Linked DNA regions of Homo sapiens. The protein of the gene in region 1 interacts with the protein of each later gene in a pairwise test. Each region holds a gene or a part of one and is shown on either strand. Other genes may lie near its edges.

Region 1 (5,489 bases):
GAAACTATCTCTCGGTTCCGGGCATTGGCGGTGGACCCCACGGAGTTTGCCTGCATGAAGGCCTTGGTCCTCTTCAAGCCAGGTAACTGAGTCTCTGCCCAAACCTTGAGTGGGAATTCTGGTGACTTCCATCTGCCTCTCACTCTCCCTCCACTACCCCCATGTGTGCAGATGTGTGTAGGCCTCTATCCTGGGGGGTGGGAGGAGAGTGGTGAGGCTGGACTCCCTTCTCCTTGGGGCCACTCCTGGTTGACTGTGAGGGGACAGGGCAGGCTGGGAGCCCCTGGGAGACCCTGAGCCCCAGCCGGAGCCCCTGGTGGCTCCTCTGGGCCTGGCAGAGCCCACCCCACAGGGCCCCAGGTCCATGTCTGCAGCCAGAACCCTGGGCCACCACTTCATGGCCAGCCTTATAACAGCCGTAAACCTGTGCTAAGCTCACTGGTGCTGCTTCTCCCCAGAGACGCGGGGCCTGAAGGATCCTGAGCACGTAGAGGCCTTGCAGGACCAGTCCCAAGTGATGCTGAGCCAGCACAGCAAGGCCCACCACCCCAGCCAGCCCGTGAGGTGACCTGAGCATGCGCCCACCCACTCATCTGTCCCTGACCTCTAACCTTTCTCTGCCTCTCCCACACTCTCCCAGAGCTCACTGATTAGACAGCACAAGGGTCTCAGTTCAACAGCATACAGCCAACATCTATGGTGTCCCAGGCACAGTGCCAGGCCCCGGGAGTGGGGACCAAGATGTACATAAGACAAAGCTACTGCCTTCTAGAGACAACCGGCAGTGACCTCACTGAAGACAAAAACTGCCCTAGCCAGGTACTGAGGGTTGCATGAATCTGCAGGAGACAGAGATCCCCTTGCATGGGAAACATAAAGCAGAATTGGGAGGGACTTTGTGGAGACAGGGCTGGACTTGAAAGGAAGAAGAAGTCTAAAAGAAAACATCATTTGCAAAGGGAGAGAGGGGCAAGCATGATATGTTGTTAGAACAGGAGCCCACTTTGAAGGTATAACAGGTTCCTGCCAGTGAGAAATGGGGAGAATAAGCCAGAAAAGTACCCTAGGACCAGCCCGTTCAGGACTTTGAATGCCAGCCAAAGGCCACGTCTGACTTGGGAGGCAGAGGGCAGCTACTGCAGGTTTCCGAGCAGAGGGTCATACACAGGGCTGGACCTCACGCAGACTGGCATGGCCATGGGTCCAGAGGATACTACTGGGAAGGGGATGGCAGCTACTGCCACCTTCCAGATGGTTCCATGGAGTTCTGATCTTTGGGCATGGCCAGGGGAAGCAGAAGGGAGACTCTAGGAGTTGAAATGGGTCAGACCCGGTGTTTGGGTGAAGGTAAGGAATGAGGGAAGAGGAGCTCTTTGGGAGAAGACATTGTTAAAAATATAAAAAGGAAAGCCAGGAGGAAAGACGGTTTTGAGGGAAGATGATAAGGTGTTTTGTAGGTGCACTGAGCATCCTGTAGAGATGCCAAGCACATGGATGGCCCTGGCTAGGTTTGGGGGAGAGTTGCTGCAGGCTGAGTGTGGCTGCGCGAGGGTGGGGCAGGAGCCGGTGCTCTGGGACTACGCTGTTTGGCCCAGCACAGGCAGATGTCATGGAGCCTCAGCAAGGTTGGAACATTTGGCCTTCAGGCATCTACTGGCTATTTTAGACCATGTTATCTGCAATCTTTGGGGCTCCCGGCAGTTTCTTTCTGAAGAAGCAAGCTAATATGGGCATCCTTGCATCACCTCTAATCCAAGAAATGATTACAAGGAGAAAAGGTAATTTCCTTTTAAGAAAAGCCACAGTATACAAAGTATATGCCATATAGCACAGGAAGATTTGTGCTGCTTATGAGCATAGGGAGAACGCTGCTACTACTAAGACTTGACTTAGCATCTGAAGAGTGGGATTCAGAGACATTCAGAAACCAGCAGCCTTTCTCTGCCAAGTTTCTGTTGGAACCAACTCCCAGAGATGTCCTGGCATATTGGTTATGCGTCAAATTTCAAAATGCTGATTAAGATTTCCTATGTCCCTTTTATAGCGGTTCATTGCCTACTACAAGGGAATTGAGCATGAAGATAGTGGTTTGGGGTTCTCTAATCCAGCATATTATTTCAGTTTTTAAAAACTGCAACACCCAGGAAGAAACACAATTACCATCGCCCCCTGATATGCACACAGACACCAAAGCGAAGTTCCACGAAGTAATTCCTACCCTTAGCTTTTACAATTTACCTGATGTTTCTCTTTTCTTTTTTTGAAAAGGCTGATTGTGACCCCCTGAATTTAATTTCAGACCCACTAGGTGAGGCAATACCTGCAGTTTGGAAAAAACATTCTTTAACTGACTTTATAGTTATTTCTTCTTCCTCCCACTCTAATTTAGATCAGAAAAACAGAAGCAGGGAAGGCAGATGGGAGGGGTATACGACTTGCTCAGTGCTGCTCACTTGGCACTAGCAAGAGAAAGGAAGGCCTTAGGTTGGCAAAGCAAGTCCAGCAGATCACTGAGTGGTGGGGAAGTCTTCCCCGAAATTCACGGTGAGAGGAGCATGGGACTGCCCAATGTGGAGTAGCCTCCTTGATGCTGGGTGTTGACCCTGGCCATCAGACCTACCCAGGGAAGGTTTAGTTCCCCCATCTGTCTCTTGGGGCTTCACCATCCGTCTTTTGTGTTGCGGACTCCTGTCTTAGCAAATACTTTTTTTTTTTTTTTTTTTTTGAGACGGAGTCTCTCTCTGTCACCCAGGCTGGAGCGCAGTGGCGTGATCTCGGTTCACTGCAAGCTCCACCTCCTGGGTTCACGCCATTCTCCTGCCTCAGCCTCCCGAGTAGCTGGGACTACAGGCGCCCACCACCACGCCCGGCTAATTTTTTGTATTTTTAGTAGAGACGGGGTTTCACCGCATTAGCCAGGATGGTCTCGATCTCCTGACCTCGTGTTCCGCCCGCCTCGGCCTCCCAAAGTGCTGGGATTACAGGCGTGAGCCACCACGCTCAGCCAGCAAATAGTTCTTATTTAAAACAATAAATATTTTTTTCAATGACTATCTCAGTCACCAAAATTATCCTTCAACTTCAGGACATTTTCAGTAATGGCTATCATCATCCTAGGTGGTATACAGACAGGAATTTGTATTCTTACAAACAATTCTTATCTACTAAAAACTAATCATATAATTATAATACTTATATATGAGATTAATAATAATATTTTCATATACAGGTGCTCCTTGACTTATGATGGGGTTACATCTGGATAAACCCATTGTTAAGTTGAAGCTACTGTAAGTTGAAGATGAATTTTCATACATAACCCATCTTAAGTCAAGGAGCATACTGAATGCTTATCACTTTCACACCATGATAAAGTCGAACCATCTGTATAGAGTTAATATAAACTTCACTTTATAATCTTTACATATAATAAACAATATTTACTCATTATTTTCATTGCACTCCTAAACTAAATAGAGGGTGGCGGCTCACAATGGGTCGAGGTAGGTGGAGGCAACTCCTCTGGTTAATGCGGCTTTTCTTTTTTCTTTTTTTTTTTTTTTGAGACGGAGTCTTGCTCTGTAGCCGAGGCTGGAGTGCAGTAGCGGGATCTCGGCTCACTGTAAGCTCCGCCTCCCGGGTTCATGCCATTCTCCTGCCTCAGCCTCCCGAGTAGCTGGGACTACAGGTGCCCGCCACCACGCCCGGCTAATTTTTTGTATATTTAGTAGAGACGGGGTTTCACCATGTTAGCCAGGATGGTCTCGATCTCCTGACCTTGTGATCCGCCCGCCTCAGCCTCCCAAAGTGCTGGGATTACGGGCGTGAGCCACCACGCCTGGCCTGAATGTGGCTTTTCCTCGAAATTCCTCCTGACCCACTCTGGGGACCTCATCTCTCCTCTCCTTCCTCCCCTCCCTTTCCTGGGAGGGCACCGCCCCAGGGACTAGTGCTCAGAAGCTGGTCGTAAAACTGATGGCGTCCTCTCTCCTGTTCAGGTTTGGGAAATTGCTCCTGCTCCTCCCGTCTTTGAGGTTTATCACTGCGGAACGCATCGAGCTCCTCTTTTTCCGCAAGACCATAGGGAATACTCCAATGGAGAAGCTCCTTTGTGATATGTTCAAAAACTAGTGGGGGTGGAGGTGAAATGTTTCCAAGCACTCTGGAAAACAATCTACTGAAACGAAACATTTGCCTACTCTTTGCCCCAGCAATTCCTCGTAGGTGTGTGTACCCAGCAGAAATGCCCACCGAAAGATATTGTAAGAATATTCATAGCAGCTTTATTCATAATAGCCCCAAACTGTATATTGATGGTAGGATGAATTAACAAGTTGTGGTATATTCATATAATGAAAAATAATTTAAAAAGAATGAATTACGGATACATGTGGCAACACAGGTAAACTTCACAGACATAAAAGTTGAATGAAAGAAGCCAGGCCGAAGTTCCATTTATGCAGAGTTCAGGAACAGGCAAGACTAATTGACAATAATAGAAGTTGGAATAGTGGTTACTTCTGGGTGGTGGGGGATTGATACAGAGGGGGCTCATGGGAGCCCTCTGGTGTACCAGAAATGTTGATTTTGATCTGGGCAGTGGTTTCACAAATGTATTCATACGTAATAATTCATTGAGCTGTGCACTTTATTTTGTTAGACCTCAATAAAAAAGTAAAAAAAAAAAACAAAAAAAACCAGAAAAATGAGTGTGGTCAAGGCTCTCCCTTTGGGGACACTGAAGGAATGAGCGCAAGGTCTTTGAGTTCCATCTGGGTTCCACTCCAAGTCAGAGACCAGGCGCAATGAATTCAAGCCCAGTGGAAAATCTCCCATAGAATTCAACCACCCAGCTTCTCTCCAGATGGCATCCCATCATCCGCAGCATCTCTCAACCTTTATCTCCTATCTCCTGCCTCATCTCCTTCCTAAGTAAAGAACACCTTCCAACTCAACATAAGGCAGCTACAGGTACGTTTTGTGAAAGGGACTCTTCATCACTTCTCAGGTCCTTATGGAAAGATACAGCTCAGACAAACTTCATCATTTTCTTTTTCTCTTTTTTCTTTTTTTGAGACTGAGTTTTGCTCTTGTTGCACAGGTTGGAGTGCAATGGCGCAATCTTGGCTCACGACAACCTCCGCCTCCCGGGTATAAGTGATTCTCCTGCCTCGGCCTCCCGAGTAGCTGAGATTACAGGTATGCACCACCATACCCAGCTAATTTTGTATTTTCAGTAGAGACGGGGTTTCTCCATGTTGGCCAGGCTGGTCTAGAGCTCCCGACCTCAGGTGATCCACCCACCTTGGCCTCCCAAAGTGCTGGGATTACAGGTGTGAACCTAATCCTTTTTGAAGATAGACCCAGATGACTGTGAAAATAATATTTTAACATGTTAACATAGATCAGGCAATGTATATATTAATAGCAGGCAGTGAGCCGGGCACTTTTTAAATTGCCATTTAATCCGCAGATTAACTCTGAGGGAA
Region 2 (6,077 bases), on another chromosome or scaffold:
GCATCTAGAAGGAGCCGAAGTCTAAGCCCTGGGGATGAACACTCCATGCCGCGCACCTTCTGGGGGTGGGGTGGGAGTTACTGGAATTGGGAGCTGGACTAGAGCTTGGACTTCAAGGCTGGGAAGGGTATCTGAGGTCACCCAGCCAGAAGTTCCTCAGGTGAACATGTGCCCCATGATTGATAACAGACAGGAGAGTTCCTTGGTGACATAAGTTTAGGACACTTTTTGTTGAACTTGAACAGACGGTTTACTAAAGGATTGCTCAGGTTAATATGCTCTTGTGCTATGTGCATCTGTAAGAGGTAGGGATAGGAGGCAACATTTCTCAAAGTTATCTGAGCACAGACCTCTTCATAGGTATTGTTCAGAATCAGTGTTCTAGAGAACACTCTTTGGTATATGTTACAAAGTCTAACTGCCCTCATTGAACAGAAGGGAAAACGGGTCAGAAGGGTGAAGGTGATCTGCCAAGTTCACACAACGTAACAAGTTCTGAATAGAAGGAAAATCAATCTTGGTCTGTTCCCCTTGGAGAGACTGGCCTTGAGGAAAGATGGTGGCCAGTTGATTCTGATCTTTCTAGAACTAATTCTAGGACCTTTCTTTTTTCCATATAAAGCCTCTTGCCCCTACAAAAGGGATTCATTGATTGATTAATCCATAGAACAAATGTACACTGAGGGTCTTCTATAGGCAAGGCACTTCCCTGAGTGCTTTGAGAGACAGAGAGCTATAAGAACACATTATCCTTGGCTCTTAAAATTCACAGCATACATGCCTTCCCACTGTCCTAAAATATACACTCACTTTGTCACAGTTAATTAAGCAATTTAAAAAAATGGCTTGGAAATGGAATGATGCCTCTTGAGATGACAGACCTCTCGGCATGTCTCAGCACTAGGGTTGGGAGCACTGCCATACTGCTCTTGCTTTTCATAGATCCTGAGGCATCAGTGGGGCGAGAGGCTGTGCTGTCCTCTTCCTCCTTCAGGAATTCAGCTGCTTGTCCCCTGTCAGGAGCCCCTGCCCTCTGAAAGGTTACTCTTCAGCCTGGTGGGGACTCTGCAGTGAACAGAGCTGCACCATCCCTCTGGCTTTCCCAAACTCTTGCTCCAGGGCACTTGGGCTTTGAGGGAAGAGGGACTTGGTGAAGAGGGGATGGCAGGTGGCCTCCATGTGCTCCAGACCTCTCCTCCTCTTTGCAGGTGCACTCCTCCCAGCCCAGCTCCAGAATGGCCCTGCCCCCCAGCCCCCTGGCCATGGAATATGTCAATGACTTTGACTTGATGAAGTTTGAGGTAAAGCGGGAACCCTCTGAGGGCCGACCTGGCCCCCCTACAGCCTCACTGGGCTCCACACCTTACAGCTCAGTGCCTCCTTCACCCACCTTCAGTGAACCAGGCATGGTGGGGGCAACCGAGGGCACCCGGCCAGGCCTGGAGGAGCTGTACTGGCTGGCTACCCTGCAGCAGCAGCTGGGGGCTGGGGAGGCATTGGGGCTGAGTCCTGAAGAGGCCATGGAGCTGCTGCAGGGTCAGGGCCCAGTCCCTGTTGATGGGCCCCATGGCTACTACCCAGGGAGCCCAGAGGAGACAGGAGCCCAGCACGTCCAGGTGAGTGGTCAGCAAGCTGGCCTGAGGGGAGGCAGGGCAAGGAAGGAGGACTGCCCAAGAGAGGAAGGGGAGCTCCCAGAGGGGGTTATGGACTGGGACAGGGGACAGAGGGCAGGAGAAGGGGAGAAGGTCCCTTGAAAGCAATCAGATCGAGAAAACTACATTCTGCTTCTCCCCCTTTTCTTAAAATGGAGAGAAATGAGTAGGCTGAACCAGGAGGAGCAGGGAGAAGATAAGATTAGCAGAGAATCCAAAGGGAAGAATTGAGCTGGGGAGTGGGCGACTCCGGGGGGTAAACAGATACATGGTGTGTGGAAACCAGGGAAAGGGTTATGTGTGGAGTGGAGCTGGGTTAAGACTGGTTTAGATTGGCCTTTTCAAGACTTCGTGCTTCCCAGCCCCCAACCTTCTCAGGAAGGATTGGGACTCATCCTATTAATTACAGACACAGATGGGGGTGTTGCGGGCATTAGGATGTAATCCAAATCCTGTGAGGGTCACCGGGTTGCAGGCTTCAGGACAGGGAAACGCAGCGCGTTGGAGGGTTGGGGGCTGTCTGGGTGCGGGTCCACTGGACACACCCGGGCCTGGAGCTGGATGCCGGGGATCCCAGAGACGAGCCCGGGGTTTAGGTGCGCGACGGGCTCGCCTGACCGTGGCCGGCCCTGCACCGTGGGGCGCCCGCCTGACTGGAGCAACGGTCAGCTGGGGGGCCCGGGGAGCGTCGGGGCCTGGGGCGGGCTCTGGACCGAAACAGACTGCGTGGAAGGGCGAGCCTTCCGGTGAAGGTGGGAGCCGGGGCGGGGCTGTCCCGGGGCGGAGCCAGGTAGCGTCGGGCCCTCAGGGCAGAGCCGGGTGCGACCTGGCGCTGACCCGGTTTCTGCATTCTCCCTCCGCAGCTGGCAGAGCGGTTTTCCGACGCGGCGCTGGTCTCGATGTCTGTGCGGGAGCTAAACCGGCAGCTGCGGGGCTGCGGGCGCGACGAGGCGCTGCGGCTGAAGCAGAGGCGCCGCACGCTGAAGAACCGCGGCTACGCGCAGGCCTGTCGCTCCAAGCGGCTGCAGCAGCGGCGCGGGCTGGAGGCCGAGCGCGCCCGCCTGGCCGCCCAGCTGGACGCGCTGCGGGCCGAGGTGGCCCGCCTGGCCCGGGAGCGCGATCTCTACAAGGCTCGCTGTGACCGGCTAACCTCGAGCGGCCCCGGGTCCGGGGACCCCTCCCACCTCTTCCTCTGAGCCGTTCAGAGCACCTTGTGGTGTAGTGGGGGCTGGGTGGGGTGGCTCCGCCCAGGAGGCGGCTGCACGGTTCTCTGCATCGTTACCAGAGCGCCTTCTGGTCCTAGCCACGCCCTGTATGACCGCGCAAATATCCCCAAAGCTTTTGGGTCCTCAAGTCATGCCCGAATTTAGATGCTGGTCATTTTCTGGAGAGGGGTCCCCTCCCCTTACGAACACAGAAACCCAGCCCACATGACTAGCACGCTGAGCTCTGCAGGGACCAGTGCCAGGCACTGGGGGGTGGAAGTGTGGTGACACAGTGAATGGGAGGTGGAGGAGGGTTGCAGCTCCCACCTCAGTTTAGTTTTTAATTCAGGGTTTTCAACCTGTAACACATTAAAGCTGTAATTAGCAATGAGGCTGTATTTTCATTCTGAAGCTTGTAACCTCCCCATTTTAGCACTACAGAATTTTCAAGATTTCAATATCCAACAACTAGATAGATTAGGACCTCTATCCGAGATGCTTTTTCCCTGCCCAACCCTGTGGCCTTCAGGGCTCAGAGCAGCAAAGGCCTGAAGAGTGAGCTCTGGGGGTTGTTGGTGTGGGTTGGGAGAGAGCTGTGTGCAGAAGTCTGGAAACCTGGGTCCTAGTCCCAGCTCTTCCATGGGATCCCCCTGTCACCCTGAGCAAATCAGTTGCTTCCTGGACTTGTGTTACTTCATCTAATTCTCATGTGGATTGGACGACTTCTGCTCCCTTTCCAGTTCTGGCATCTCCCCAGTATGGAAGTCCCGGTGGTCTCCCCAAGAAGTCCCCAAGACAATCTCGCCAAAGGCACCTCCTATCCTGCTGCAGTTTCCCAGCTGCAGCCTAGGCAGGGGATGCACAGCCCAGGCGAGGAAGCCTGGCTTCTCTGTGAGCACATACGTGGGTCCTCGGCAGCTCCCTCCAGGCTGTCTGGGCCTCCAGACCTGCACAGGGTGCTCCTGCCACCTCCCACCTCTCTGAGGGCTGAGGTGAGACTTCTCCTGGGATGACAATTTGCTGAGAGAGTGCAGCTTTTGTGAATTAAACTTGAAGTCCAGGCAGAATTCTAATGCAATAAGCTAAATGTTCTTGCAATTTAAGAAGTGTTCATTCTTTATCCCTGCTTCAGGCTACTGTTTGTGTGTCTGTGTGTGGGAGAGGGAGAGAGAGGGAGAGAGAGAGAGAGCAAGAAAAAGGGAAGTCCCCACCTGGAGCTGGGTGGCACATCTGTTATGGAGAGCCAATGGAAATGGGGTGGAGGGGCAGGCATTGGAACAGATGGATCCTCCCCCTCTCACCACCACCACCACCAAACTCAGAAGCCTCAGTGGCCCAGCTCGGCCTGTCAGTGGCTATCCAGGTCTCACAGTTTCCATGGTAACCCAGTCCTCCAGTTCAGCAGGCTAAGGGGAGGGCAGATGGGGCCTCTGGGCAGAGCACAGGCGTTGTGCTGGGAGCAGCCGCCTCACGAGTTACTGTCATCTGTCCTCTACCGGACATAATAAATGGGAGAAGCTTTCGGGCATGGGGGAAGAGGCTCCCATATGTCCCTCTTCCTTTCTACCCCCTCTCTCCACCCCCTCCCCAGCTGTCTCTTCTCTTCCCATCACAGTTCTTGCTCCCTCTTTCCCCTCCTCTATCCCAGCTCATCCCTCCTCCGCTTAGGAGCCTGCAATGGGAGTCCTCTCCTCCATCGCTCTCAGAATTTCTCTCGTCTCCTCTCCCTTCCCCACCATTGGCCACTGGCCATCCTCTCTGGCTCTGGATTCTCTCTCTGAGGGGCTCACAGAACCTTTAGCTTCTCTTTCTTCATCCCCTTCCACACTCATTGTTGAAGGGAGAGGATGGGGCAGGGAGGGTCCTTCCGGGAGCCCAGCTCTTTTTCTCTCACTCTAAATTTCACCTGTGTCTATCCTTGCCTGCCCTGGAGCTGTAATTCAGACCCACTACTTTTCTTGTTCACTTTTCTCACCTGCATGGCACACAAAGACAGACAGAACCATCCATAGACACCTGAGCACACAACTAGGCCACATATACAGTACCATACCTGGGTCTCAAAATGATACTCCTGGGTTACCTGAGTATACTTAAAAAAACAAAGTTGCACACTGTGGTGATTAAGAGTAGTGCTTTAGGTGGGGCGCAGTGGTTCCTGCCTGTAATCCCAACACTTTGGGAGGCCAAGGAGGAAGTTTGAGACCAGCCTGGGCAACATAGCGAGAACCCTGTCACTACAAAAAAATAAAATAAAATAAATTCAGATGTAATGGCATGCACCTGGAGTCCCACCTACCCAGGAGGCTAAGGTGGAAGGATAACTTGAGCCCAGGAGTTCGGGGATGCAGTGAGCCATAATCGTGCCACTGCATTCCAGCCTGGGTGGCAGAGTGAGACCCTGTTTCAAGTTGCAGTTCTACCAGTTTTTTGACCATGGGTGGGTTAAAATCAAGCCTCACTTGATTGTCAGAAAAATGGTGAAAATAATGGTAACCACCTACTGAGAATAAATGCATTTAAATAAGCACTTAGCATAAAGTTGACACATGCTACGTAATGATATTTGCTGTTGTTGCTGATGTGATTGTTAAGTGTGTGAATCTGTGTGTTCATGCACTGCACATCCCTGAGTCCATGAGTGTGACCCATTAAGGCCATGAACAGACACACACATTGACACACCCGGGAAACCAGACTGTATAGGCCTTAGATGCTCCACTATGTTCCCAATTCACTAGCAGACCTGCTGCCCTCCTTCAGTATCCCCCAGCACCTGCTCTTGGCCCGCCCCACAGCTGTGTGGGGGCTGGGGTTCAGCTCCTGGGGGACTCAGCAGGGCCTCTCTGGAGACAGCTATAAGAAAGCTTCAGCCTGCCCTCCTGACAGCCCGTAATTATCCTCCTATCTCCTGTAATTATTCTCCATGGTGCCTAGACCCCCTGGGGTTGGGAGGTGAGGGAGGGGGCTCCTCAGATCCCACTGGCACATAGCTGGGGTAAGACTGCAGAGACAGCAGCCTGCCTGGGGAGCTCTGTCTCAGATTTTGAAAGGTGCTGGTCCTCATTTCTTATGGTGTGTGTGGGGGTGCTGCAGGCTGCCCAGTGGGCATCTGAGGCATGATGGTTAGAGGCTGAGGTGCTAGGAGCAGTTCTCTTTATTAATGGCTAGAAAGTCAGGATCACCCAAGGAAGTCACTGAGGGGCCACAGCATTGAAGG

What was found.
Region 2: the proteins of NR2E3 (region 1) and NRL come close enough for resonance energy transfer, tested with the Homo sapiens proteins (one study listed by BioGRID).

The regions. Positions count from the first base shown.
Region 1 is NC_000015.10:71,813,554-71,819,042, forward strand, and holds the end of NR2E3 (photoreceptor-specific nuclear receptor), read left to right. Parts: coding exon 1-82; intron 83-458; coding exon 459-564; coding exon of another isoform or gene 565-568; exon of another isoform or gene 569-1,376; intron 1,377-3,998; coding exon 3,999-4,131; 3' UTR 4,132-4,700; downstream 4,701-5,489. UniProt on the Homo sapiens protein: Orphan nuclear receptor of retinal photoreceptor cells. Transcriptional factor that is an activator of rod development and repressor of cone development.
Region 2 is NC_000014.9:24,078,007-24,084,083, reverse strand, and holds the end of NRL (neural retina-specific leucine zipper protein), read left to right. Parts: intron 1-1,208; coding exon of another isoform or gene 1,209-1,235; coding exon 1,236-1,616; intron 1,617-2,515; coding exon 2,516-2,848; 3' UTR 2,849-5,422; downstream 5,423-6,077. UniProt on the Homo sapiens protein: Acts as a transcriptional activator which regulates the expression of several rod-specific genes, including RHO and PDE6B. Also functions as a transcriptional coactivator, stimulating transcription mediated by the transcription factor CRX and NR2E3.